7 linked regions of the Homo sapiens genome follow. The protein of the gene in region 1 purifies or fractionates together with the protein of each later gene. This does not show direct contact. Each region holds a gene or a part of one and is shown in the gene's direction. Other genes may lie near its edges. The genes, in order: SLC27A6, ADCK2, CREB3L2, AREL1, ADCY9, TMEM201 and TUSC2.

Evidence for each region.
Region 2: the proteins of SLC27A6 (region 1) and ADCK2 purify together in Homo sapiens (affinity purification with mass spectrometry; one large-scale study listed by BioGRID and IntAct). This does not show direct contact.
Region 3: the proteins of SLC27A6 (region 1) and CREB3L2 purify together in Homo sapiens (affinity purification with mass spectrometry; one large-scale study listed by BioGRID and IntAct). This does not show direct contact.
Region 4: the proteins of SLC27A6 (region 1) and AREL1 purify together in Homo sapiens (affinity purification with mass spectrometry; one large-scale study listed by BioGRID and IntAct). This does not show direct contact.
Region 5: the proteins of SLC27A6 (region 1) and ADCY9 purify together in Homo sapiens (affinity purification with mass spectrometry; one large-scale study listed by BioGRID and IntAct). This does not show direct contact.
Region 6: the proteins of SLC27A6 (region 1) and TMEM201 purify together in Homo sapiens (affinity purification with mass spectrometry; one large-scale study listed by BioGRID and IntAct). This does not show direct contact.
Region 7: the proteins of SLC27A6 (region 1) and TUSC2 purify together in Homo sapiens (affinity purification with mass spectrometry; one large-scale study listed by BioGRID and IntAct). This does not show direct contact.

What each region holds. Positions count from the first base shown.
Region 1 is NC_000005.10:128,971,988-128,975,487, forward strand, and holds part of SLC27A6 (long-chain fatty acid transport protein 6), read left to right. Parts: intron 1-3,500. UniProt on the Homo sapiens protein: Mediates the import of long-chain fatty acids (LCFA) into the cell by facilitating their transport at the plasma membrane.
Region 2 is NC_000007.14:140,671,629-140,675,744, forward strand, and holds the start of ADCK2 (uncharacterized aarF domain-containing protein kinase 2), read left to right. Parts: upstream 1-1,316; 5' UTR 1,317-1,702; coding exon 1,703-2,635; intron 2,636-2,982; coding exon 2,983-3,129; intron 3,130-4,116. UniProt on the Homo sapiens protein: The function of this protein is not yet clear. It is not known if it has protein kinase activity and what type of substrate it would phosphorylate (Ser, Thr or Tyr).
Region 3 is NC_000007.14:137,901,087-137,904,586, reverse strand, and holds part of CREB3L2 (cyclic AMP-responsive element-binding protein 3-like protein 2), read left to right. Parts: intron 1-569; coding exon 570-628; intron 629-3,164; coding exon 3,165-3,233; intron 3,234-3,500. UniProt on the Homo sapiens protein: Transcription factor involved in unfolded protein response (UPR).
Region 4 is NC_000014.9:74,671,581-74,675,080, reverse strand, and holds part of AREL1 (apoptosis-resistant E3 ubiquitin protein ligase 1), read left to right. Parts: intron 1-969; coding exon 970-1,047; intron 1,048-1,862; coding exon 1,863-2,004; intron 2,005-2,128; coding exon 2,129-2,250; intron 2,251-3,500. UniProt on the Homo sapiens protein: E3 ubiquitin-protein ligase that catalyzes 'Lys-11'- or 'Lys-33'-linked polyubiquitin chains, with some preference for 'Lys-33' linkages.
Region 5 is NC_000016.10:4,106,443-4,109,942, reverse strand, and holds part of ADCY9 (adenylate cyclase type 9), read left to right. Parts: intron 1-3,500. UniProt on the Homo sapiens protein: Adenylyl cyclase that catalyzes the formation of the signaling molecule cAMP in response to activation of G protein-coupled receptors.
Region 6 is NC_000001.11:9,595,411-9,598,910, forward strand, and holds part of TMEM201 (transmembrane protein 201), read left to right. Parts: intron 1-479; coding exon 480-600; intron 601-1,448; coding exon 1,449-1,643; intron 1,644-3,038; coding exon 3,039-3,215; intron 3,216-3,500. UniProt on the Homo sapiens protein: Critical regulator of angiogenesis and endothelial cell (EC) migration. Promotes the migration of endothelial cells, which is essential for angiogenesis.
Region 7 is NC_000003.12:50,325,424-50,329,365, reverse strand, and holds the start of TUSC2 (tumor suppressor candidate 2), read left to right. Parts: upstream 1-1,142; 5' UTR 1,143-1,266; coding exon 1,267-1,412; intron 1,413-2,888; coding exon 2,889-3,009; intron 3,010-3,179; coding exon 3,180-3,245; 3' UTR 3,246-3,942. UniProt on the Homo sapiens protein: May function as a tumor suppressor, inhibiting colony formation, causing G1 arrest and ultimately inducing apoptosis in homozygous 3p21.3 120-kb region-deficient cells.

The sequences.
Region 1 (3,500 bases):
TTTGTAAAGGATATTATTTCTCCTTCACTTATGAAGCTTAGTTTGGCTGGATATGAAATTCTGGGTTGAAAATTGTTTTCTTTAAGAATGTTGAATATTGGCCCCCATTCTCTTCTGGCTTGTAGAGTTTCTGCCAAGAGATCAGCTGTTAGTCTGATGGGCTTCCCTTTGTGGGTAACCCGACCTTTCTCTCTGGCTGCCCTTAACATTTTTCCTTCATTTCAACTTTGGTGAATCTGACAATTATGTGTCTTGGGGTTGCTCTTCTTGTGGAGTATCTTTGTGGCGTTGTCTGTATTTCCTGAATTTGAATGTTGGTCTGCCTTGCTAGGTAGGGTAAGTTCTCCTGGATAATATCCTGAAAAGTGTTTTCCAACTTGGTTCCATTCTCCCCATCACTTTCATGTACACCAATCAAACGTAGATTTGGTCTTTTCACATAGTCCCATATTTCTTCGAGGCTTTGTTTTTTCTTTTTACTCTTTTTTCTCTAAGCTTCTCTTCTCGTTTCATTTCATTTCATTCATTTGATCTTCAATCACTGATACCCTTTCTTCCACTTAATCAAATTGGCTACTGAAGCTTATGCATGCATCATGCAGTTCTCGTGCCATGGTTTTCAGCTCCATCATGTCATTTAAAGTCCTCTCTATGCTGTTTATTCTAATTAGCCATTCATCTAATCTTTTTTCAAGGTTTTTAGCTTCTTTGTGATGGTTTCGAACATCCCCCTTTAGCTCGGAGAAGTTTGTTATTACCGGTCTTCTGAAGCCTGCTTCTGTCACCTCATCAAATTCATTCTCCATCCAGTTTTGTTCCATTGCTGGCAAGTAGCTGTGATCCTTTGAAGGAGAAGAGGCACTCTGATTTTTAGAATTTTCAGCTTTTCTGCTCTGGTTTCCTATCTTTGTGGTTTTATTTACCCTTGGTCTTTGATGATGGTGACCTACAGATGGCGTTTTCATGTGGATGTCCTTTTTGTTGGTGTTGATGCTATTCCTTTCTGTTTATTAGTTTTCCTTCTAACAGTCAGGACCCTCAGCTGCAGGTCTGTTGTAGTTTGCTGGAGGTCCACTCCAGACCCCGTTTGCCTGGGTATCACCAGCGGAGGCTGCAGAACAGCAAATGTTGCTGCCTGATCCTTCCTCTGGAAGCTTGGTCTCAGAGGGGCACCTGCTTGTATGCAGTGTCAGTTGGCCCCTACTGGGAGATGTCTCCCAGTTAGGCTACTCGTGGGTCAGGGACCCACTTGAGGAGGCAGTCTGTCGGTTCTCAGATTTCAAACTCCCTGCTGGGAGAACCACTGCTCTCTTCAGAGCTGTCAGATGGGGACGTTTAAGTCTGCAGAAGTGTCTGCTGCCTTTTATTCAGCTATGCCCTGCCCCCAGAGGTAGAGTCTACAGAGGCACACAGCCCGGTTTGAGCTGTGGTGGGCTCCACCCAGTTCGATCTTCCGCACTGCTTTGTTTACCTAGTGAAGCCTCAGCAGTGGTGGACTCCCCTCCCCTAGCCTTGCTGCCACCTCGCAGTTCAATCTCGGACTGCTGTGCTAGCAGTGAGCAAGGCTTCGTGGGTGTGGGACCCACCAAGCCAGGCACGGGATATAGTTTCCTGGTGTGCTGTTTGCTAAGACCATTGGAAAAGTGCAGTATTAGAGTGAGAGTATCCCGAGTTTCCAGGTACCGTCTGTCACAGCTTCCCTTGGCTGGGAAAGGGAATTCCCTGACCCCTTGTGTTTCCCAGGTGAGGCGATGCCCTGTCCTACTTTGCTCACACTCTGTGGGTTGCACCCACTGTCCAGCAAGTCCAAATGAGATGAATCCGGTACCTCAGTTGGAAATGCAGAAATCACCTGTCTTCTGCGTCGCTCACGCTAGGAGCTATAGACTGGTGCTGTTCCTATTCAGCTATCTTGGAACAATAAAAACACAAAGGTTTACTTCTGAGCACTCATTTTAATCTTGTTTTCATTACGGGAGGAAAGGGTCTAGGAGCAAATGTAAACTCCAAGTTTTGCTAATAATTGATAAGGCCGTAAGTTCTGTTTACAAGGGCCAACCAAGAGGGCCACAGTGTCCCTGAAAAAATGGAGACATTCCAAAGCCGGTTTCCTGAGAGATTCGTCTTAAAGTACATAGGACTGGCTACTTCTCAAGATAGAGCATTCAGGCTTTTCTGTTGACCGAATTGTTGTTTAACTAGGACCAATTAATTTTGCAGTTTTACTTGTGCCAGCTTTTACTTTGCTTGCCAATAACTAATTGCATTGTTTTCTTATTTTTGTTTTTAACACCAACAGTCAGTTTTTTGTATTTAAAAAAGCCACTTTGGGATACTGAAGTTTTAAGCCAAGACTATTTAGTTGATTGGCTCGGTAAGTAGGTCACTGGAGAAGTCACCCATTCTTTCTGGCATACCTTCAAATATAAATGAGATATATGTTTTCCAAAGATGGAAAAATTCTATTTTGATTAACAGATTTTGTAATAAGATGTAGCTTAGATCATAGTCACTTTTATACTTAAAATACTGTGTTGTTGGCATCTGGAGTCTCATTTGTGAACAATATAAACATACTCTTTTTAGCACATTAAATTTCAGATTTCTTGGATTCTCATTGGATGTTTCTGATGGTGTACTATTAAATCATTATACCCCCAGGGAGAGTATATTGAGGTAGAAAGATGAATCATGTGGTTCAGACGGAGGTAAGCCAGACAGACCCAAATTCCATGTATGGTCTGCCACTTCCTGGCTGTATGGTTAAAGATAATATCATCAGTTACCCTGGATCTCACTGAACTTAGTTGTAAAATGGTGATGATACCATCTGATTCACAGTATAATTCTGAGGATTAAATGACACATCTTTTGTAAAGTGGCTAGCTGAGTGCCTGGTATGTACTAAGTAGATCTTATTGTATTTAAATGATTGCTATTATGATTATAGAGTAATCCTGGGGCTTTTAATAAGGGATCTCATTTGGATTTTGCAGCTACAACCTTATTTGATGTTAGCTAGTATATACAGTCATGAATCACTTAATGACAAGGATACTTTTCTTAGAAATGTGTTAGACGGGCCAGGCGTGGTGGCTCACGCCTGTAATCCCAGCACTTTGGGAGGCTGAGGCAGGCAGATCACCTGAGGTCAGGAGTTTGAGACCAGCCTGGCCAACATGGCAAAACCCCGTCTCTACTAAAAATACAAAAATTAGCCGAGTGTGGTGGCAGACACTGGTAATCCCAGCTACTTGGGAAGCTGAGGCAGGAGAATCATTTGAACACAGGAGGCAGAGATTACAGTGAGCTGAGATCGTGCAACTACACTCCGGTCTGGGGAATAGAGTGAGACTCCAAAAAACAAAAGCAAACAAACAAACAAAAGAAATGTGTTAGGTGATTTTGTTGTTGTGTGAACATCATAGAGTGTACCTACACGAACCTAGATGACATAGTTTACTACACACCTAGGCGCTGTGGTATGGGTTATTGCTCCT
Region 2 (4,116 bases), on another chromosome or scaffold:
GAAATATTTATTGGGCTCAGTGAGTATTATTGAATGAATGAATATGGCCTTTCCGGAGCCTTTCCCCAAGGTCCAACACAATTGCCGAATTAATGCAGCCGAGGACACAGCATCCAGTTCCTACTCCTGCAGCCCAGTTACCCCCATCCAACACCACCCCCCTACCCAACCCCCGCTGAAAAGCGGACCTGTGTTCAGAACCTGCCTTCATACTTTTCAGCCATGCTCTTTGGAATAATGAAAGATACGAAGAAGTCAGTGGGAAGATAGACATGGGGAGGGGGACATAGAGGGTGCCTTTGCGTTTTGCTACCCAGGACCCAGGACTCAAGGGCAGGGTGGTCTTGGCCTGGGGTCGCCGTCCTCTTTAAGGGGCGGGTCAAGGGACCCTGGCTGCCCGGGCCTCTGCCACCGACCCTCTGCTCCCTCCGACCCTCACCGCCCAGCACCCAGCCCTCTGCCCCCACCGGCCACCCTGTAACAGCCCAGCGGGTTCACCTTGCCTGCTGCCTAGACAGAGCCGATTTATCAAGACAGGGGCATTGCAATAGAGAAGGAGTAATTCACACAGATCAGGCTGCGCGGGACACTGGGCAGAGTTTTTAAGGACAACTTGGTGGGTGGGGGAAGGCCAGTGAGTCGAGAGTGCTGATTGGTTGGGTCGGAGGTGAAATCTTAGGGAACTGAAGCTGTCCTCTTGTGCTGAGTTAGTTCCGGAGTGGGGGCCTAAGATCAGATGACCTGGTTTATCGATCTGGTAGGTGTCAGTTGATCCATCAAGTGCAGGGTCTGCAAAATATCTTGAGCACTGATCTTATTAGCAGTTTAGGGAGGGTCAGAATACTGTAGCCTTGCTGCCTGACTCCTAAATCATACTTTCTAATCTTTTGGTTAATTTGTTAGTCCTACAAAGACAGTCTATTCCCCAGGCAAGAAGGAGGTTTGTTTTCAGAAAGGGCTGTTATCATCTTTGTTTTAAACTATAAAGTATAAACTAAGTTCCTCCCAAAGTTAGTTCAGCCAACGCCCAGGAATGAACAAGGACAGCTTGGAGGTTAGAAGCAAGATGGAGTTGGTTAGGTCAGATCTCTTTCATTATCTGTTATAATTTTGCAATGGCGGTTTCAACCTAGTGGCCGAACCCGTCCCATCCATCTCCCGCGCCCCTCCGCTCCACCACAGCCCTCGGTGCCTCGGTTCCCTGCACCTGCACTCCCGCCCGCCCCCGACGCTCCGCCCCCGACGCTCCGCCCGCCCTCCACGCTCCGCCCCGCCCTCCCGGCCCCCGCCTGCGCCCGCGCCCTGGGCTGGTGCCCGCCACCCCAGCGATCTCATACTGGCCCCTGGGCGCACGGTGACCCTGCGGCTGCCCGGCCCCTGCCTCCGCCCGCGCGGCCCCCTCGCTCAGGTCGCGGGCGCCCGGGGCCTGGCTTCGCGTGGGTCCTGGCTCCTCCCGTTCCGCAGTTGGTGCCGTCTGACAGCCCCTTCCGCGCGGCGCGGCGCGGCGCGGCGGGTGTCGGGCGGGGCGCGGGCCTCCGGCCTGAGGCCCGGCGAGGTGCTGGAGGGAGCGGGGCGCGGATCCGGCCCAGATGGGCAGCTCCGTCCGCGGGGTCAGGGCCGGGCTTCGGCTTCACCGCAGCCTCGCCTGAGCGGGCGCCTCTGAAGTGGAGGGCGGGCCGCCTGGGCCGCGGGCCTCGGGAGGATGGTGGCGCCCTGGCGCGTCTCCGTCAGGGTTTGCCTGTCGCACCTGAGGTGCTTCGAGCTCAGACAGGGACTCAGCCTCCTGAGGCCCTCCGAGTGCCCTCGCGATGCCAGGCTCTGCTGGCTTCTGCTGGGCACTTTGCCCAAGGTCGTCTCCCTGTGCGGGGACGTGGGTGAGGGGGCCCCTGACGTTCTGAGTCGGCGAAGGGTCCGCTGCAGCGGGGCGGCTGGCGCGGGGCCCGCGGAGAGCCTCCCCCGAGCGGGACCTCTGGGCGGCGTCTTCCTGCATCTCCGCCTCTGGCTTCGCGCCGGCGCTCTGTTGGTGAAATTCTTCCCCCTCCTACTCCTCTACCCCCTCACCTACCTGGCTCCCAGCGTCTCCACCCTCTGGCTCCACCTGCTTCTGAAAGCCACCGAGACCTCAGGCCCAACCTACATCAAACTGGGCCAGTGGGCCAGCACCCGGCGCGATCTGTTTTCGGAGGCTTTCTGTGCCCAATTTTCCAAGCTGCATGTCCGAGTGACGCCCCACCCGTGGACTCACACTGAGCGCTTCCTTCGGCAGGCTTTTGGGGATGACTGGGGGAGCATCCTCTCTTTTGAGAACCGGGAACCTGTGGGCTCAGGCTGCGTGGCCCAGGTGTACAAAGCATACGCCAACACTGCCTTCCTGGAGACTGACAGCGTCCAGAGACTTGGCAGGGCCTCCTGTCTGCCGCCCTTCTCACATACTGGGGCAGTCGGTGGGCTGAGAGAGCTCTTTGGATACCTTGGAAATGGCCGGAAACCTCCAGAAAATCTCGCAGACCAGTCGTTTCTAGAAAGGCTGCTCCTCCCTAAAGCTGACCTGGTTGGATCAAATGCAGGGGTGTCTCGGGCTCAGGTCCCTGGCCACCAACCTGAGGCCACCAACCTCATCTCCGTGGCAGTGAAAGTAAGTGTTGTGAGAGCTCACAGCTCACCTACCCACTGAGCTATCCCAGATCAGAAACAACCGCCATGCAAATCGCCCCCACGTTTATTTCTATTTGCCTGACCAATATCTGAGTGCTTATTTCATGCAAGCTGTTTCATTTATTGGCTTGAAGTGGCGGTGTGAATAGTCTGATAGAGGAAAATGAACTGAGTCTGGAGTGAACTAACTGCTTGGGTGTCGGGACCACATCCTCTTTTCTTTGATAAGAAGCCACCTGGCTCTTGCTTGGATGGTGGGACCCAGCCCTGGCTGGGTAAAATGTGTCCAGCAGGTTTCTCCTGTCTCACGGTTCCTCTTTCTGACAGGTGTTGCACCCTGGCCTGCTCGCTCAGGTGCATATGGACCTGCTGCTGATGAAGATTGGCAGCCGAGTCCTGGGAGTTTTGCCAGGCATCAAGTGGCTTAGCTTGCCTGAGATTGTGGAGGAATTTGAGAAGCTGATGGTCCAACAGGTGAGTTCTCCTCCCCTCAGCTGTAAATAGCACCTAACATAGTTCTTGCCATTAGCTGCTACTTAGTAAATGTTGAATGAATAATTTTCTGGTATGTCATAACTCATGTGATGTGTTAGAGCTGGTAACACTAGCTGATAAAGAACATCCAAATCTCAGTGGCTTAATGCAACAAATTAATTTTTTGCTTATATCAAAGTTCTGGCCGGGCGTGGTGGCTCATGTGTGTAATCCTAGGACTTTGGGAGGCTCAGGCAGGTGGATCACTTGAGGCCAGGAGTTCGAGATCAGCCTGGCCAACATGGTGTAACCCTGTCTCTACTGAAAATACAAAAATTAGCTGGGCGTGGTGCTGCATGCCTGTAATCCCAGCTACTCAGGAAGCTGAGGCATGAGAATTGCTTGAACCCAAGATGGAGGTTGCAGTGAGATGACATCATGCCACTGCACTCCAGCCTGGCGACAGAGTGAGACTCCATCTCAAAAGAAAAATAAAAACAAAAAACAAAGTTCTATGCAGGTGAACTGAGGCAGAGAAAGGGAGCTCTTTATTTTATTATTTTAAAAACAGAGACAGGGTCTTGCCATTGTTGTCCAGGCTGATTTTGAACTCCTGGGCTCAAGCCATTCTCCCTCCTCGGCCTTCCAAAGTGCTGAGATGACAGAACTAAGCCACCGTACGGTCAAGAGAGGGAGCTCTACTCCCTAGTTTCAGGGGACTCAATTTCTTCCCAAGTTTGGCACTGCCTCCTTCAACATGTGTCATCTGGGGTCAGTGTGGATTGGAGGCAGAGGCCATGCAGGGTCATGTAATAAATTTTGTGGCCAGGCCTGGAAGTGGCAAACATCACTTCTTTCCTGTTCACTGATCAGAGCTGTAACTGCCTGGGCCCAGTGTAACTGTGAGCTTGGGAAATACAGTCTTCCTTTGTGACAAGGAAATGATTCTGGTGGAGAACATCTAGCATTATTTCTGCCATAATCAAT
Region 3 (3,500 bases), on another chromosome or scaffold:
ACTCAAGCGATTCTCTTGCCTCAGCCTCCCAATTAGCTGGGATTACAAGCATGCACCACCGCGCCCAGCTAATTTTTGTATTTTTAGTAGACGGGGTTTTACCATGTTGCCCAGGCTGGTCTTGAACTCCTGACCTCAGGTGATCTACCCGCCTTGGCCTCCCAAAGTGCTGGGATTACAGGCTAGAGCCACTGCGCCTGCCATTTTTTTGTATTTTTAATGGAGACAGGGTTTCACCATGTTGGCCAGGCTGGTCTCGAACTCCTGACCTCAAGTGATCCGCCCACCTCAGCCTCCCAAAGTGTTGGGATTACAGGTGTAAGCCACTGCTCCTGGCCACTCAGTGTCCATTTTACTGGTGGCCTGGTTTGTAGGAAAGTAGGTGTGAGTTTGGCAGCTAGAAACCCGGGAGGACAGACTAGTCAATGAACCAGCAGCTTAAACAAATGGCAAGCAGCTTGCAGAAGTAAGCAGGGCTTTGGTGACTTCTACGCTAACCACCTCCCATCTTAACTGGTTTACTTACAGAGCTGGAAATTAATCATTCTCCTCCCACTCCTCTCTCTCAGATTTCTGCTCAGGAAAGTAGGAGAAAGAAGAAAGAATACATGGACAGCCTGGAGAAAAAGTAAGCCTGCTGGCAAACTGTTGCGTTCATCGGGCAGTATGCACAGGGAAATATGGGTGTGCGGAGAATCGGGGAGAAGCAGTTCAATTCCTCTTTCTGGCCACCTTGGAAACCCGGTGGTTTATCAGCTGTGGTTTGCCTGCCACCTAGTGGTTATTTGGAGGAGACGTCTATAATAAAGCAAGAAAGAAGTGAAAGTACCTTAGTAGGTGTTTGAATCATACCACTGCCAGCCAAGGACCCCGGAGTCCTCACAGACTTCTTTTCAAACACATACAAATATTAACATTCCTGCACATTCCTGGAACTTCTAGCAGGAGAAGCCCTGTTTTAGCTGAAAGGAGCAGTGCTACTTAATCAGCCCCCATTGGCCACACTCCTTCATGCTCTAGAGAGGGCACATAGGGAAAGAAAGATGTCAGGTTGGCAGCCTTTATTTTCCAGCCACTACAATTCATGTTTTTTTTTTTTTGCAAAAACACTTGAAGGCAATCTTTGTTCTTTTGAAAAGTCTGTAATATCAGGCGGGCTGTTAGAAAAAGATGAATTAAATACAGTTTTGTCTTAGCCCTGGAAGTTAGTTCTTTAGCTAACAAACCAAGATATTTTTAAGATGGGCATGAGGCCCCAGACCCAGAAATGAACTTCATGTGGATCTGGGGAAAGGAGTGGCTGGTGGTTCCTGGCTGTTTCTCAAAGCTACTATTGAAAGTTTAGTGCTTCTATCACCTGACTTAAGTACTGGTAATGCAGCATTAAGTATAGTTGGCTCTCCATATCTGGGGGTTCAGCGTCCTCAGATTCAACCAACCATGGGTCTAAAATATTCAGAAAAAAACTTCAATAGGCTGGGTGTGATGGCTCACTCTTATAATCCCCGTGCTTTGGGAGGCCAAGGTGAGAGGATTGCTTGAGCTCAGGAGTTCAAGACCAGCCTGGGCAACATAGCCAGACCCCCTAAAAAATAAAAAAAAATTAGCCAGGCATGGTGGTGCACATCTGTGGTCCCAGCTACTCAGGAGGCTGAGAGGGGAGAATCACTTGAGCCCAGGAAGTTGAGGCTGCAGTGAGCTGTGATTGTGCCACTGCACTATAGCCTTGATGATAGAGTGAGACTCTGTCTCAAAAAACCAAAGCCAAAACCAAACAACTCAATAAAAAAAAACTACAACAATAAAAAATAATACAACTATAAATACAAGATAACACATATTTACATAGTATTTACATTGTGTTTGGTATTATAAATAACCTAGAGATGATTAACATATACTGGAGGATATGTAAAGGTTATATACAAATACTACACCATTTTTTAATCAGGGACTCGAGCATCTGGAGATTTTGGTATCTGTGGGGAGTTCTGGAACTAATCCCCCCTGAATACCGTGGGAAGACTGTAGTCCCATGCTGTCCCACCATTTTCTATGGGCATCCAGGGTCAAGATGTTCCTATGAAAGTCTCTTTACTGTCTCTTTTGGGCATGCGTGCCCCAGCACCAGGATTCCTAGTCCTGGGCTCTCGTCCTGCCCTTTGCTTAAGTCTCTTCACTTCTTATCAGTCCTGGTAAGAGTGTAGCTGGGAGTATCCAGATTACTGTAGTATAGAGGGAGAAGTATGATGGGCATTGAGAACACTAGGGAGGAGGTGAGAGGAAAGAGGTTGTAACACCCTAAAAGAGGGTCATATTTTGTACTGTCACTATTCATCTTTCATTATTCAGGCACTCATCACTCAGCTCCCTCTTTTTTTTTTTTTTTTTTGGAGACAGAGTCTCGCTCTGTGGCCCAGGCTGGAGTGCTGTGGCATGATCTTGGCTCACTGCAACCTCTGCCTCCCAGGTTCAAGTGACTCTTCTGTCTCAGCCTCCCAAGTAGCTCGGATTACAGGCACACACCACCATGCTCAGCTAATTTTTGCATTTTTAGTAGAGATGGGGTTTCACCATGTTGGCCAGGCTATTCTTGAGCTCCTGACCTCAAGTGATCTGCCTGCCTCAGCCTCCCAAATTACTGGGATTATAGACATGAGCCACTACGCCCGGCCCCAGCTCCTTCTATTTTTCTTTTTTTTTTTTTTTTTTGAGACAGATCTTGCTCTGTCACAAGGCTGGGGTGCAGTGGCGATCTTGGCTCACTGCAACATCTGACTCCTGGGTTCAAGCGATTCTCCTGCCTCAGCCTCCCGAGTAGCTGGGATTACAGGCACGTGCCACCACGCCCAGCTAATTTTTGTATTTTTAGTAGAGACAGGGTTTCACCATGTCGGCCAGGATGGTCTCTATCTCCTGACCTTGTGATCCGCCTGCTTCGGCCTCCCAAAGTGCTGGGATTACAGGCGTGAGCCACCGTGCCCGGCCTATTTTTTTTTTTTTCTTAAGTCTCTTCATCCTTCTTTCAATACTTTCCCACACTTCCATGGGGTGGCAGATCCCCCCAACCCTCCTTTTCCTCATCCCCACCTACCTCCACCCTAGCTCCTAGCTTAGTGTTTGCTCTATGGATAATAATTTTCTTCTTTCTCCCTCCTTTGTAGAGTGGAGTCTTGTTCAACTGAGAACTTGGAGCTTCGGAAGAAGGTAGAGGTTCTAGAGAACACTAATAGGTAAGTGTCACTGGACTGAGAGCTGATTGCGCTACCAATGGAAGATGGGGAAGGAAGAGGATAGAATCCAGAACCAGGGATGGCAGAAAAGTGGAGGAGGTCACAGTGAAAGTGCAGTTGTGCTGAGATGCTCAGCATGGCCAAACTCCACCCACCCACTCCTGCTACACACACACGCATGCACACGTGCTACTCTTGCACATATACAAACACATATGCACACATGCTCTCATGTTCACATCCACAATACACATATGTACACACTCT
Region 4 (3,500 bases), on another chromosome or scaffold:
TTTGTCTTCTTTAGTATGTGTTTGAAATTTTCTTTAAACTTTTTTTTATCAAGAAAACAACTGACCTGCACATTCAGATAAAAGGGATTTTTTAAGATTAAAAAATTTTTGCATTGTCTTTTCCTCTTTTGTATGAACTTTTTTGTGTGAGGACCTTCCCCTATACCACCAACATATTCCACTCCAGCTCACCCCATCTTGCCTCCCTTCCCTGGCAGATCCTTGGCACCATTCAAATAGGTATAAAGCAGTGTGTATGGGTTGCTGGTGTTTGCTATCCAGTAACTTGGAGGAAGTCATTCTGAGCATCATGGGGCTGAGCAGAAGGAGATTTTGATTGTTTCTAGGTGAAATATTCTGTTCTCATAAAGTGAAAACCTGATCCCAGATATTTAGAAAGACTTGAGTATTACAATTATGAAATATCTCTGTGTGAAACTGCATTGTCAGTCATATTTTTTTTATTTATTTTATTTTTTGAGACAGGGTCTCACTTTGTCACCCATGCTGGAGTGCCATGGTCCAATCTCAGCTCACTGCACCCTCTGCCTCCCGGGTTCAAGCGATTCTTGTGCCTCAGCCTCCCGAGTACTTGGGATTACAGGCATGAGCTACCGCACCCAGCTAATTTTTTTGTATTTTTAGTAGAGACTGAGTTTTGCCATGTTGGCCAGGCTGGTCTTGAACTCCTGGCCTCAAGTGATCTGCCTGCCTCGGCCTCCCAAAGTGCTGAGATTATAGATGTGAGCCATCCACACTTGGCCATCAGGGTAATATTTTTAATTTGCCTTTTTAAATAGAGAGTTAATGTATTTATTTGACTTTAGTACTCACTAAATTATTACTTTTGTCCATGGAGAGGAAAGGTTATGAGAAATGTAAATAGGGACTATGATATTTGAATTAGAATACCCAAATAGAGCCTTTTTATTTATCATTCACTTCATTTCCTGTCTGTTGGTCCTCCAGCAATTCTCAGTGAAGGAGTTCTACCTGAAGATCATCCCCTGGCGCCTTTACACCTTCCGAGTGTGTCCAGGAACAAAAGTAAGCTGAACCTTACATCTGGTTCACATCAAGCATGCTTCATCTCTGGACTATCTCAGCCTTTTATTTTTTCTCAGAAGCACTTTTAGTGTTTCTGCAAGATCTCACAGTGTACACAGGATTCGTTGCCAAATAAAGCATCATTATCTCCTCACTAAATGGCATGAAGAATATATAAATTCTGGAAGGACGCATGCCTACAGAAACAGGAATTAGCAGCAACTCAGAATACTTCAACAGTGATCCTTTGCCTTCAAGACTAAGTTAATAGAGAAGATGTTTGTAACTCTGGCCCAAGCTTGGTCTCCCAGTGTGCTGAAGCTAACTCCTTTTAGAAGCACCACTCTCATATATTAAAATACATTGTTTGTTTGTTGTTAACTTTTCTGGGCTTCTGGAATCTAAACTTTTGCCCAAAGGCTAGAATGTGCCATTTTATAAAAATAGTTTTCTTCTGATCAGTTTGGAGTAGTCATTTATTGCTGTTTAATATATCCTTACTATTGCTATTTAATATATCACCGTATTGCCATTTATTGCTATTTAACATATCACCCTTCTTATATTTTATGTTAGAAGGTCTGTAGTTTTGCTGGTGGTCCTAACTAAAGGCAGTCTCTGTGACTAAAATAATTTTAAATGTTGAAATGTAAATCACTGAAGGGAAAAATAATGAAATGTATTTCTGGTAGGTCCTCATTTGGAGAAAACAAGCCTAACTTATTGTTGTTGGTTGGTACACAGGATAGAGCTGTGGAGGACTTTTACTGGCCTTGAGGGTTTTATAGATTAATTTCTTTGTTTTTCTTTACCAGTTTTCATACCTTGGTCCTGACCCTGTCCATAAGCTGCTCACACTGGTGGTGGATGATGGCATTCAACCTCCTGTGGAGCTCAGCTGTAAGGAGAGGAACATTCTAGCAGCCACTTTTATCCGCTCCCTGCATAAGAACATAGGTGAGGTTACACAGGGATTCTATAGGGAAGGTAGTGAGCCCAGCCACATCCATGAGGGTGGAGAGGCAGGACTACACAGATGGCTTGTAATGAGGCTGTAATGATGGATCTTGCTGTTCCCCAGGAGGCTCTGAGACCTTTCAGGACAAGGTGAACTTTTTCCAGCGAGAGCTTCGGCAGGTACATATGAAAAGACCACATTCCAAAGTCACCCTGAAGGTCAGCAGACATGCCTTGTTGGAATCGGTAGGTAAAATTTCATCTCTGTCAGCAGATACCAAAGTTTTCCAATTGAATGTCTATATTCTGCAGGTTACTGTTTTTGTTTTTGTTTTTGTTTGGGAGATAGGGTCTCACTCTATTGCCCAGGCTGGGGTGCAGAGGTGCGATCATGGCTCACTGCAGCCTCGATCTTCCCGGGCTGTGATCCTCCCAACTCAGCCTCCCAAATAGCTGGGACTATAGGTATGTGTCACCATGCCTGGCTAATTTTTGTATTTTTTGTAAAGATGGGATTTTGCCATATTGCTCCGGCTGGTCTCGAACTCCTGGACTCAAGTGATACACCCGCCTCAGCCTCCCAAAGTGTTGGGATTACAGGCATGAGCTACCATGCCTGATCTGGTTATCTTTTTCATGAAACTTAAATTTCTCTGTTTAAGTAAAGATATAGATATACTTATAAAAGACAGATATACTTATAAAAGACAGATATACTAAATTTCTGAAACCTAAATTTCTCTCTTTACATATGTCTGTTCTTCTATTTGATTCTACTAAATTTGGGGCAGTTTTGTTGGAGGTATGTTATCGAGGGAAGAGCAGTTTACTTACTGGCCTTCAAATCTACTGAATGGGTCCCTTGGAACTCCCATGTAGGGCAGGTGTAAATAGTGATTACAGAAGAAACTTCTTGTTATTGAATCCCTGGAATAGAGCGCTTGTTGAATTAAAAGGAAATGATTTTTGTTGTCACTTTGGTCTGATGGAAAAGGAACACCTGATGTGTGTCTGTCTCCACTGCACAGACACTGGCATAGTTCTTACATTCCCCAGGAATGAGAAGGCTTGGTTCCTGTCCAGAAAGTGTTTGTGATGTTTGGCTCTGGTAGGTGTGACTGGAAACCCGTTTTCTCAGCCATATTCTCCGTGTGGCATGGCTCGCTGTCTGAACCTAGCCTTGTGGATAAATATGTCTAGTGGATAGATCATACTTTGCTGAAAACCAGGATTCCTTGGTTCTTTTGCCTACAGCTTACTGACTTGAGTCATTTTTTACTTCTTTATGCAAGAATGTTTTCATTGCTAAAACAAGGATTGTTTAAAACAAAAGGAAAAGAAAAAAACAACTTCAGCTTTCCAACAAAGTGATGATGTAAAGGCAAATCAGATTATTTTTTAAAACTTTAAATTTGAAGTTATGTGCATTTTAAATGTCAGGTGGTATCATTAAAGCTTGTTTATGAGTAACATATCTCCTTCAGGCAGTCGTAGTT
Region 5 (3,500 bases), on another chromosome or scaffold:
CAGGACAAGGAAGGCCATGGGTAGCGTGGGAAGGAGTTTGCATTTGACCCCATAGGTGTCAGGGAACCACTCAACAGGGGGCTTAGGTGATCTGACTTGCAGTTTTAGAAAGTTCACTCTTTCAGAGCTAGTGAGTGTGGGTTGGAAAGAGATTAATGAGGTGTCGAGTAAATCCCAGGTAGGGGTGATGGTGGCCCAATCCAAAGTTACAGTAGCAGTGATGGAGGTGATGGGATCTGAGTGGCATTAGGAAGAGCAGCTTGATGGGACTGCAAGCCAGATTTAAACAAACGACTGGCAGGAGGGGAAGGGCTTGACCATGTGAATGGGAAATGGCATTTTAAGTTTCTGGAAGTGACTTGGCGACAATGTGGAGTCAGGAATGGGTGAGGGGCCTTTGAAGTTGCTATGGTATGAATGGAGAATGCAGGATGGACTTGCAGAGTACAGAGGCCCGGAACCCCTGGCTTGCTTACTCATTCAGCAAATCATTTACTCCGTGCCAGGCACGGTTCTGGGTTCTGGCAATACAGCCGTAAACAAAACAGACAACAATTCCTGCTCTTGTAATAGGGGACAAGAATTTTTAAGTCAATAATATAGGAGGATCGCTGGAGCCCACGAGGTCGAGGTTGCAGAGAGCCGTGATTGCACCACTGCATTCCAGCCTGGGCGACAGAGTGAGACCCTGTCTCTAAGAAACAAAAACCAGGCCTTCAAATAGGGGAGATCTAATAGAGGGGACAACAGGGGAGTCAAACCATAAATAAGTAAAATAGAAAAAGTGTTTTGTGAACAAACATAAAGCAGGAAGGGGATACAGCAGATGGGGTGTACGAGTGTGAGAAATCTTATCTAGGGTGGCCAGTCACTGGGAGAAGGTTGCAGGAATTTTTAGCATACTGCTAGGATTTTGGAAATAATCTAAAAAGTGAGGGGCCAGGCATGGTGGCTCATGCCTGTAATCTCAACACTTTGGGAGGCCGAGGTAGGCGGATCACCTGAGGTCAGGAGTTTGAGACCAGCCTGGCCAACGTGGTGAAACCCCATATTTACTAAAAATACAAAAATTAACCAGGTGTGGTGGCAGGTACCTGTAATCCCAGCTACTCGGGATGCTGAGGCAGGAGAATTGCTTGAACCTGGGAGACGGAGGTTGCAGTGAGCCAAGATTGCACCATTGCACTCCAGCCTGGGCGACAAGAATGAGACCCTGTCTCAAAAAAAAAAAAAAAAGTGTGAGGGACAGTTATTAAAGATATGGAGAAATGGGCCGGGCGTGGTGGCTCATGCCTGTAATCCCAGCACTTTGGGAGACCGAGGTGGGCAGATCAGGAGGTCAGGAGTTTGAGACCAGCCTGACCAACATGGTGAAACCCTGTCTCTACTGAAAATGCAAAAATTGGCTGGGTGTGGTCGCAGGCGCCTTTAGTCCCAGCCACTTGGGAAGCTGAGGCAGGAGAATCGTTCGAACCCAGGAGGTGGAGTTTGCAGTGAGCCGAGATCGTGCCATTGCACTCCAGCCTGGGCGATAGGGCGAGACTTTGTCGCCAAAAAAAAAAAAAAAAAAAAAAAAAAAAAATGAAGAAACGGTCTGATTAAGGTGAGGGACCTTCCACAGCATTTGGGATGAAACCGCTAGGCCTGAGGGAACCGTGGCTGTTGTATTCTGCCTTGGGCCACAAGCAAAAAATGGTGAGACGTGTTATCTCGAGCTGTTGGCTTTTCCTGTCATAGATACAGGGTCACAAAGACAGAAAATGAAACTGTTAGAAAATATCTACAGGCATCTTCTTTTCCCGTGTAAATATTAGGAAGACAGAATGAAGATGCTCCTCCGCTCTCATCCACACCCATGGTCATATCTCTGAAGAGGGGAATACCAGGGAGTGATCACATTGTCAGATGCAGAAATTAAAAAAGCTTTTTTCCCCAGCCAAACTTTATGCTTGTGGAGCAACTTGGGGAGGAGACCCGCTGGTATGCATTTGGGCAGATTGTCACCTGTTGGCCACCTCTGTGATCGAGACCTTTGCCTTAGAGGAGTTCCTATGTAGACCCTGTCTGGTGGGCCGACAGACCGACAGTGGACGGAGGCATTCTGTATGCGTTAGCCTCTGCAAACAAACACCTGTCTCATGCCGGAAATCTGGGCGCCCCATTAACCCTGAGCACGGGCCTGCCAGCTGACAGAACCCTAGCCAGGTGTTGGTTTGGGGTTCAGTTGCATGCTCAGGTGTTCCCCTTCCTTCCCCCGTTAGCTTGTCCCCACCTAAGCCTGCAACCCTTGCCACTGGGATGCTAACCCGTTAGCAGAGCTCAGTCTCCTTGCTTGGAAATTCTGTGTTGACCTGCACTGCATTCTTTTTTTTTTTTTTTTTTTTTTTTTTTTGAGACAGAGTCTGGCTGTGTCACCCAGGCTGGAATGCCATGGCGTGATCTCAGCTTACTGCAACCTCTGCCTCCCAGGTTCAAGCGGTTCTCCTGCCTCAGCCTCCCAAATAGCTGGGATTACAGGTGTGCGCCACCACGCCCGGCTAATTTTTGTATTTTTAGTAGAGATGGGGTTTCACCATGTAGGCCAGGCCGGTCTTGAACTCCTGACCTCAGGTGATCCACCAGCCTCAGCCTCCCAAAGGGCTGGGATTACAGGCGTGAGCCACCACGCCCAGCCTTGACCTGCATTCTTGAGCAGGATCTGTTATGCACGTGGAAATACAGCCTCTCAGATAGCAAATGGCAGAGATGAGATGAGGCACACAGTTCCCCTCCACAGCTGGGGTGGGAGACAGAAAACAGCAGTAGAGTCGACACTCAAGCTGCCCCCAGTGACCATTTGTTCAGGCTCTTTGAGACCTGGCTTACAGTGACAAGGACACAGCTGTTAATTCTGAAGACAAGCTTTCGAGTAGAAGTAACCTCTGGTAAAGCAAGAGAAGGTTAAGGTTTGCTGAATTGCCAATGGGATGAAGAAGGAAGGGAGGGCTGTCTTTTCAGGTAGAATGCCTAAGGAAGGGAAACATGGAGAAGGAACAATTAGAGCAAGTCAAGAAGTTTCAAGATTTTTGTCTTCTGGCCAGCTTGGTGAGATAGTAATTATGTTTCTGCATATTGGTCAGCGTTGCCTATGTACTTTGCTGTGGAATAGTAATCTTGGAAAAAAACCAACCAACCAACCCACATTAATCTGTCCATGTCTGGGCACAGAGTGTGCAGAAGCCTGCGTGGGCCGTAAGTCTCGTCTTTGTCTTGGTTGGTGATTTTAGTATTGGTGTTTTTGCTGGAATTCCAAAACTGTAAGAGTGTAATCATTCACCATTAGAATTCTGCAGGTCCCCTCCTGACTCTGGACTAGCTGAGCTTAGGGGCCTGTCATCCATCTGGCCCTGGGCATATCATTTGTACTTTGCCTGTGACACACCTCAAGACCTTTTCCAACAGGAACTAGCATCCCTGGAGGGAATTTTGTGAAGAGATGAGAGTTTTTGAAACAGGAAGGG
Region 6 (3,500 bases), on another chromosome or scaffold:
TCCCTGGGGCGCACCCTTTCTGCAGCCCAGGATCAAGGACCTCGTGGGGGAGGGGTGGTCCTCGAACCTGGTCCCAGTCAGCCCTGGTTTGGCCAGCCCTGGCCCCTGTTGTGCTCCATGTGTGAGCCCCAGGCCACCAGGAGCAGGTGGCCCTGGGTCCCCGTGCGGCCGCACTGGAGCCTAGGGATCTGCTGAGGCTCCAGCTGGCCTCCTCCCCTTGAAGACTGAGAAGCCCAGGTTGGCCGTGGCCTCCCTGTCTGGTCCTGGGTGGATGCAGCCGTACCTAGTCTGCGTTCCTCTCCTTCAGAGCCCTTGTTCCTCCTGCTGTTCTGGGGCCAGCATCTCCAGCTTTGCATCCCCAGATCCCAGATCCCACTCCCAGCACCCTTTCCCTGGTGGCCCTGGGGCAGGGCATGGAGGTCCCTCTCCAGCAGGTGCTGGGGTCTTCCAGGCCAACCCGCTCTTTCCTTGGTCCACAGGATGAAGCCAACGCACACGATGGTCAACTGCTGGTTCTGCAACCAGGATACGCTGGTGCCCTATGGGAACCGCAACTGCTGGGACTGTCCCCACTGCGAGCAGTACAACGGCTTCCAGGAGGTGTGGGTCACAGGCAGGCGGACGGGTGGGCACGCGGGGGTGGGGATCTTGAGATTTGCACCTTGAGACCACCCTGTGTCCCTGCCCTGCCCCGGGGCTCATGGACCCCACACCCTCATACCCTGTCCTCTCCAGGCCCTGAGCATGGTGTTTCGTGTACATTGTCTCACTCGATTCTCACCACTGCCCTGGCGCTGTCTCCTCACTTGAGGAGGAACCCGACGCAGGGAGCCATGGCAGTTTGTCCAAGGTTACACCACTAAAAGTGGCAGATTTGGGGTTCACACCCAGGTCTTTCTGGCTCTGCATCTCATTCTCTGTACTATATCAGGGCTAGCAAACCTTTTCTGCAAAGGGCCAGATAGTATTTTAAGCTTTGGAAGCCATTTGGTCTCTGTCACAACTGCTAACCCTGCTGAGCCACCGTAGGTAATACAAGAGTGAATTAGCCTGGCTGTGTTCCAATAAAACTTGATTGCAGAAACAGGCAGCTCCTCCACGGGTCATAGTGTGCTGTCCCCTGGACTAGACCAGGGTTTGCAGACTGAGTTCCGAGAGGGTAGGGCTCTGAGGACAGATGCTGGCTAGAGGTGTGTGGGTGGGCGGCGGGCTGCAGGCCCTGCTCTGTGCTCAGGCTAGGTGGCTTCACTCGGCATCTGGGCCTTTGGGTTCCATGGAGGTGTCTTGAGAAGAAAAGCAGCTGCTGTTGTGTGCAGAAGAAAAAAAAGAATGGAGATGTTTGAGATCTACCATCACTTGCCTGGAGCGGGGCGGGCCCCCAGGGACATCACCAAGCCTGAGCCAGCTGGGAGGGCCTGCCTGCCTCGAGTCCCACCTCTCTCCCGCAGAACGGCGACTACAACAAGCCGATCCCCGCCCAGTACTTGGAGCACCTGAACCACGTGGTGAGCAGCGCGCCCAGCCTGCGCGACCCTTCGCAGCCGCAGCAGTGGGTGAGCAGCCAAGTCCTGCTGTGCAAGAGGTGCAACCACCACCAGACCACCAAGATCAAGCAGCTGGCCGCCTTCGCTCCCCGCGAGGAGGTGAGGCCGGGTTGGGAGGGCAGGGGTCCTGGCTGGGGCCAGGGATGCTTAGAGCAGCCGGGGGACAGGCACGTGCAGGGTGCTGACTCTGGTCCTCTGGCCCCTGCTCTGCTAGACAGCGGCTTTTCTGTTCTGAGTGCCCAAAGGGGCCCCCTCATCCTTGCCACTGCCAGCACATTCCAGGATGTGTTAGTTCTTCTGACCCCGTTGGAGCTGAGCTGCTTCTCCCCATGTCTTACAGTCACTGCTATCGGGGTTCCAAGCCTAGGAACACCGTGGAAACCCCAGCACCTGCCAGTCCAGAGGAATTTGTCCCTGGGCAGAGGGAGGAAGGGACCTTGGGTTCCAGGTGGGGCCCTGTTGGACCCACTCTGTCCTGTTTCTCTGAATCAGCCTTGCCTGCTGGTGGCCCCGGCAGTCTGCTGTGGGGTTGGTGGAGGATGCCACTGGCTTCTGGGAGGAGGAGGAAGCTAGACATTGCTGAGAGGCTTGGCATTAAGGAGCTGGGCTGAGCTGGGAGCCTCACCTTGCCTGTGCCCTCCATGGAGTCCAAGAGCCTTGCTTACTGGCTGCTCCTTCCTGCCCTCGGCCAGCCCAGGGAGTCCTGTCACCTCAAGAGGCAGGTCCCAGCTGGGGCCCAGAGACACTGGCTTTCCTGGGGTCCAGCCTGGGAGGGAGGGAGAACAGAGGTGAACTCAGGCCAAGGCAGGGATGGGGAACCTGCGAGAAGGGGAAGGCAGGGGTGACTTGGCAGCCAGGCAGCTTTTCGGCATGCTTGGTCGCAGCAAGGGATCACACTCCTGACCCTCCTGGCCTTGCAGGCCAAAACGTTTGCTTCCTCAGAAACAGGGAGGGAGAGTTGCAGTGCTGCACGTCTAAGGGCTGAGAAGGAGGGGACTTGTCTTCTGGGCTATTTCAGAAGCTGAAAGAAACCTTCACCTGCCACAAAGACAGGCCTGGCCAGGGGCTCTCTAGCATTCAAGCGGAAGGGCAAGCGCCACAGTCGGGGTTGTCCATCTGCCCCACTCCAGGCAGTGTCAGCCCGCAGCCACCTTCCCCCATGTTCACCCACCTTCTTGGAGCTCTGCATCTGGGGAGCAGACCCTGAGCTCCTGGCCTGCGGGTGCGTCCCTGGAGCAACAGAACCTTGTTAGTGTCCCCATCACTTGTGGGCCCTGCCCTGGATTGGCTCTAACTCCCGGTAGTCCACATGGCTCTACACAGTGGGCATTTGTCCTGTTGGGCAGAGGGGAAGCAGGTTCAAAGTGGGGTTGACTTGCCCCCGGTCATCCCCTAGTAAGTGGCAGGTCAGGATCTGATTCCACGTCTGACCTGTAAGATGGAGGCAGCTCATCCACCCCTGCAGATGCCGAGCCTGTTCCCCCAACCCCACAGGGCAGGTATGACGAGGAGGTCGAGGTGTACCGGCATCACCTGGAGCAGATGTACAAGCTGTGCCGGCCGTGCCAAGCGGCTGTGGAGTACTACATCAAGCACCAGAACCGCCAGCTGCGCGCCCTGTTGCTCAGCCACCAGTTCAAGCGCCGGGAGGCCGACCAGACCCACGCACAGGTGAGAGGCGGCATCCACAGGGCGGGGGTGGGGGTGTTGAGTTTGTTCAGGAAACCCTCCCAGGAGGCTGGGCACTAGTGACCAGAGGGTAGCTCTTCAGAGCTGAGCCCCTTTATTTTTATTTTATTTTATTTTATTTTTGAGATAAAGTTTTGCTGGGATTACAGGCACACGCCACCACGCCTGGCTAATTTTGTATTTTTGGTAGAAACGGGGTTTCTCCGTGTTGTTCAGGCTGGTCTCGAACTCCCGATCTCTGGTGATCCGCCTGCCTTGGCCTCCCAA
Region 7 (3,942 bases), on another chromosome or scaffold:
GTTCGAGGCCAGCCTGGCCAGCATGGCGAAACCCCATCTCTACCAAAAATACAAAAAAAATTTAGCTGGGCGTGGTGGTGGGCGCTTGTAGTCCCAGCTACTCAGAAGGCTGAGGCAGGAGAATCGCTTGAACCCGGCAGGCAGAGGTTGCAGTGAGTGGAGATCACACCACTGCACTCCGATAGAGCAAGACTCCAACTCAAAAAAAAAAAAAACGGCCGGGCGCAGTGGCTCAGGCCTGTAATCCCAGCACTTTGGGAGGCCAAGGCGGGTGGATCACCTGAGGTCCGGAGTTCAAGACTGCCTGACCAACATGGTGAAACCCCGTCTCTACTAGAAATACAAAAAAATTAGCCGGCATGGTGGCAGATGCCTGTAATCCCAAGTACTCGGGAGGCTGAGGCAGGAGAATCGCTTGAACCCTGGAGGCAGAGGCTGCAGTGAGCCGAGATCGTGCCACTGCACATTATCCTGGGCGACAAGAGTGAAACTCCATCTCAAAAAAAAAAAAAAACAAAACCATCCCTTCAACACACACACACCACGCTCTGGGAGAAGGTGTGGCATAACTCCTTCACCAAATACAGAGCTGCCACCGTGGACCAGACACTGCTCGTGATACCGAGGGTATAGCTGTTAACAATTCTTGCTTTCATTAAGCATGGACTCTGCTGGGTTTGAAAACACTGAATTCGAAGTTCTTCAGAACTGAATGTAACTATGTGAATCTGGCCAGTTCCTTAATTTTCTTTCAACTTGGTTAGTTCACATAAGCGTGGCAATCGCAAAAATACAGCTGTGAAAATAGAAGCCAGATGGGCACCCGGCGGTCTGGCCTTAGGCCCTGAAGTGCAGGTTTGAGGATTGGTGCTTGCGAAGTCCTGCTAGGCCTGAACTCAGGTGTTGGGGGACGTCAGAGCCGCCAAATACACCCAAAAGACCGGGAGGACTCACGGCCACCACTTTCCTCGGTGGGAGCTGTCCCAGCTGGTCAGATCGCGCTTGCTGGGACCTGGGATCTCGCAACGCATGCTGGGATGCCCAGCATCTAAGGGCGCCCATTGGTCCCGCCCCCACGACTTGAGCAACAGCCAATCAGAGGTGGCAGCGTGCGGAAGCGGAAGTGAGGTTTCCGTGGAGACAGCCGAGCCTGCGGAAGGCGGCGGCGGCGGCACCTGCGATCAGCGGCTGGGGCAGGTTATGGTAGTGCGGACTGCGGTGTGAGCAGAGCGGCCACGGGGCCCGCCATGCGCCGGCGGCCCTGACATGGGCGCCAGCGGGTCCAAAGCTCGGGGCCTGTGGCCCTTCGCCTCGGCGGCCGGAGGCGGCGGCTCAGAGGCAGCAGGAGCTGAGCAAGCTTTGGTGCGGCCTCGGGGCCGAGCTGTGCCCCCCTTCGTATTCACGCGCCGCGGGTAAGGGCATGGGTTCCACCCTGGCGGGGGGAACAGGCGGGCGGCCAGGCGTCCCGCGCCACGGGGGAACTTCCACCGCTGTACCCCACTACAGCCAAGCCAGGACGACCCCCATATTTTGAGCCTCATTGGAGCTGGGGGTGGAGAAAGCCGGGCAGTGGTCTCCTGGCGGCCTGGCCACTCTGAAAGTCTCCCTAGGGAAGAGTGGGCCTGAGGCTTGTCACTGGTCGGACCTTCCGCACGGTAAAGCTAAGCTAGGGCCTCCATAAGACCTCCATAAGATCTCTTCCTTTCATCCCTTCCGGCTCAGCCTGCATACTGAAGGGTCCTAGCCTCCCTTTCCCCCCCAGTTATTCCAAGGGGATAATAACCCTCTGTTTAGGCTGCTTTTCCTGACAGTAGTGGGGCTGAACCTTTGAGCGTAGTGGCTGGGAAAGCAGGGATAGGCCTCAGTATTGGGGGTGAGGCTGAGGAAAAAAGACCCTCACCCAGTTATGTTCTCCAGATCCAGAGCGCTGACCTACCCACCCAACCCCCAGCCCAGTCTCCCAGAGGCCCGCACAAGAGTACCAGATTGGCTTGGCTCTAGTGGGCTCCTGGAGATGGGCGCTCCCTGTGCTAGAGATTTGGCTGTAGACACCAGGAAGACCCAACAGTGGCAATTCACCAGCCACCTGGGGTGTGGGGTCAGGGGAGACGCAGCCTTCATTCCTTTGTGCTTCTTCCTAGCTTAGGCTTCTGCTATTTCAGTCTTTGACACTGGGCCAGCAGCATCTTCTGGAGTGAGACCAACATGCCCAGGCCACCACCCTGCCCACTCTAGAAGTCCTGGGTGAAGGCAAAGTCCTGATATTAGAATGGCTGCCCTTGCTGAACAAATCAAGGATGAGAACTGGCCTTGGTGGCTGCCTGGATGGTGTGCTCTGGTGTGGGCTCTCTTCTTGGGGGTCTGACATAGTAGCACTGCCCACCCATCACCTCACTTCCCACTTTCTTCTAGTAGACCCCAAACCCCAGGCAAAGGATTCTCCAGGCAGGCCAGGCACCGTGGCTCACGCCTGTAATCCTAACACTTTGGGAGATGAAGACGAGTGGATTGCCTGAGTTCAGGAGTTCGAGACCAGCCAGAGCAACATGGCAAAACCCCGTCTCTACTAAAATACAAAAAATTAGCAGGGTGTGGTGGTGCATGTCTGTAGTCCCAGCTACTTGGGAGGCTGAGGCAGGAGAATTGCTTGAACCCAGGAGGCAGAGGTTGCAGCAAGCTGAGATCGCGCCACTGCACCTCCAGCCTGGGCAACAGAGTGAGATTCTGTCTCGAAAAATTTTTTTTAAAAAAAGGATTCTCCAGGCATATTATCCTCTTTTCTTCCCACTTGGGGTTGGGAAGACCACAGACTTCCCCGTGACCTGTGACATTTGCCATGCCCAGGTGTGGGGCTCCAGCCCAGCCTGTTTCCTTCTCCCTCTACACAGCTCTATGTTCTATGATGAGGATGGGGATCTGGCTCACGAGTTCTATGAGGAGACAATCGTCACCAAGAACGGGCAGAAGCGGGCCAAGCTGAGGCGAGTGCATAAGAATCTGATTCCTCAGGTGAGGGGCTGGGCAGCGGTCACAGAGCCTACACTAAGCGTGTGGAGGTGGACCCAGATGGGATCTGTTGTCATGGTGGGGGCTTTTGCGGGGGGATCTGGGAGGAACAAGGAAGCTTCCTGAAGTAGAGGCCCTGAGCTGACCCTTACTAGCCTCTGTTTCCATGGCAGGGCATCGTGAAGCTGGATCACCCCCGCATCCACGTGGATTTCCCTGTGATCCTCTATGAGGTGTGACCCTGGGAGGTGGCAGACAGAAGCACCCCCTGCCCCGGCAAGAAACTCCCAGGCTCAATCAAGGTGTGGCTTCCATTGAGGAGCCCAGGCTGGGGCCACAACCCTGAATAAACTCTGTTGGCCCATAACCTTCAGCTGTGAGCGGGTCGGTCCCACAGTATTGGTTGGGTGTTGGTTTGTGTGTGGACAAGAGGTGGTTGGTGGGTGGTGAAGGCTAATGGCAGAGTTAGCACCCCACTCTCCCAAGCCACCCCTGCAAGCAGCACAGCAGGGCATATACCAGTCAGGAATGCCCGTTACCTGGTTCCTTGCCTGGTCTGCTTTCTTCCAAGTTTGCCTGGGGCCTAGCCCTGCTAGAGGCTACAGCACTTTACAAGCAAGGTATGCTTTCTTCCAGCCCCTAGGCTGTGGGCACTGTATACAAGTAGGAACTTCCTTTCCTTCACTTCCCTTTTAACCCCTAGTCAGAGCATTTCAGCCGTTTGCTACCTCGATTCCTCCTGTGTTGGACAGAGGCTGGGGGCAGTGCCAGCCTGATTCTTCCGACCTACCTGCCATTTGTTCCCGCCTTCAGATGGATGGACAGTTTGCTGGCTATTGATAGGAGTGGGGACTGGGTGGGGGCTTCTCCCTCTACCCAGGGCTGGGCTGATCCCCCTACTGCAACTAACTGTTGCCCCCCAACCCCGAACCCCCA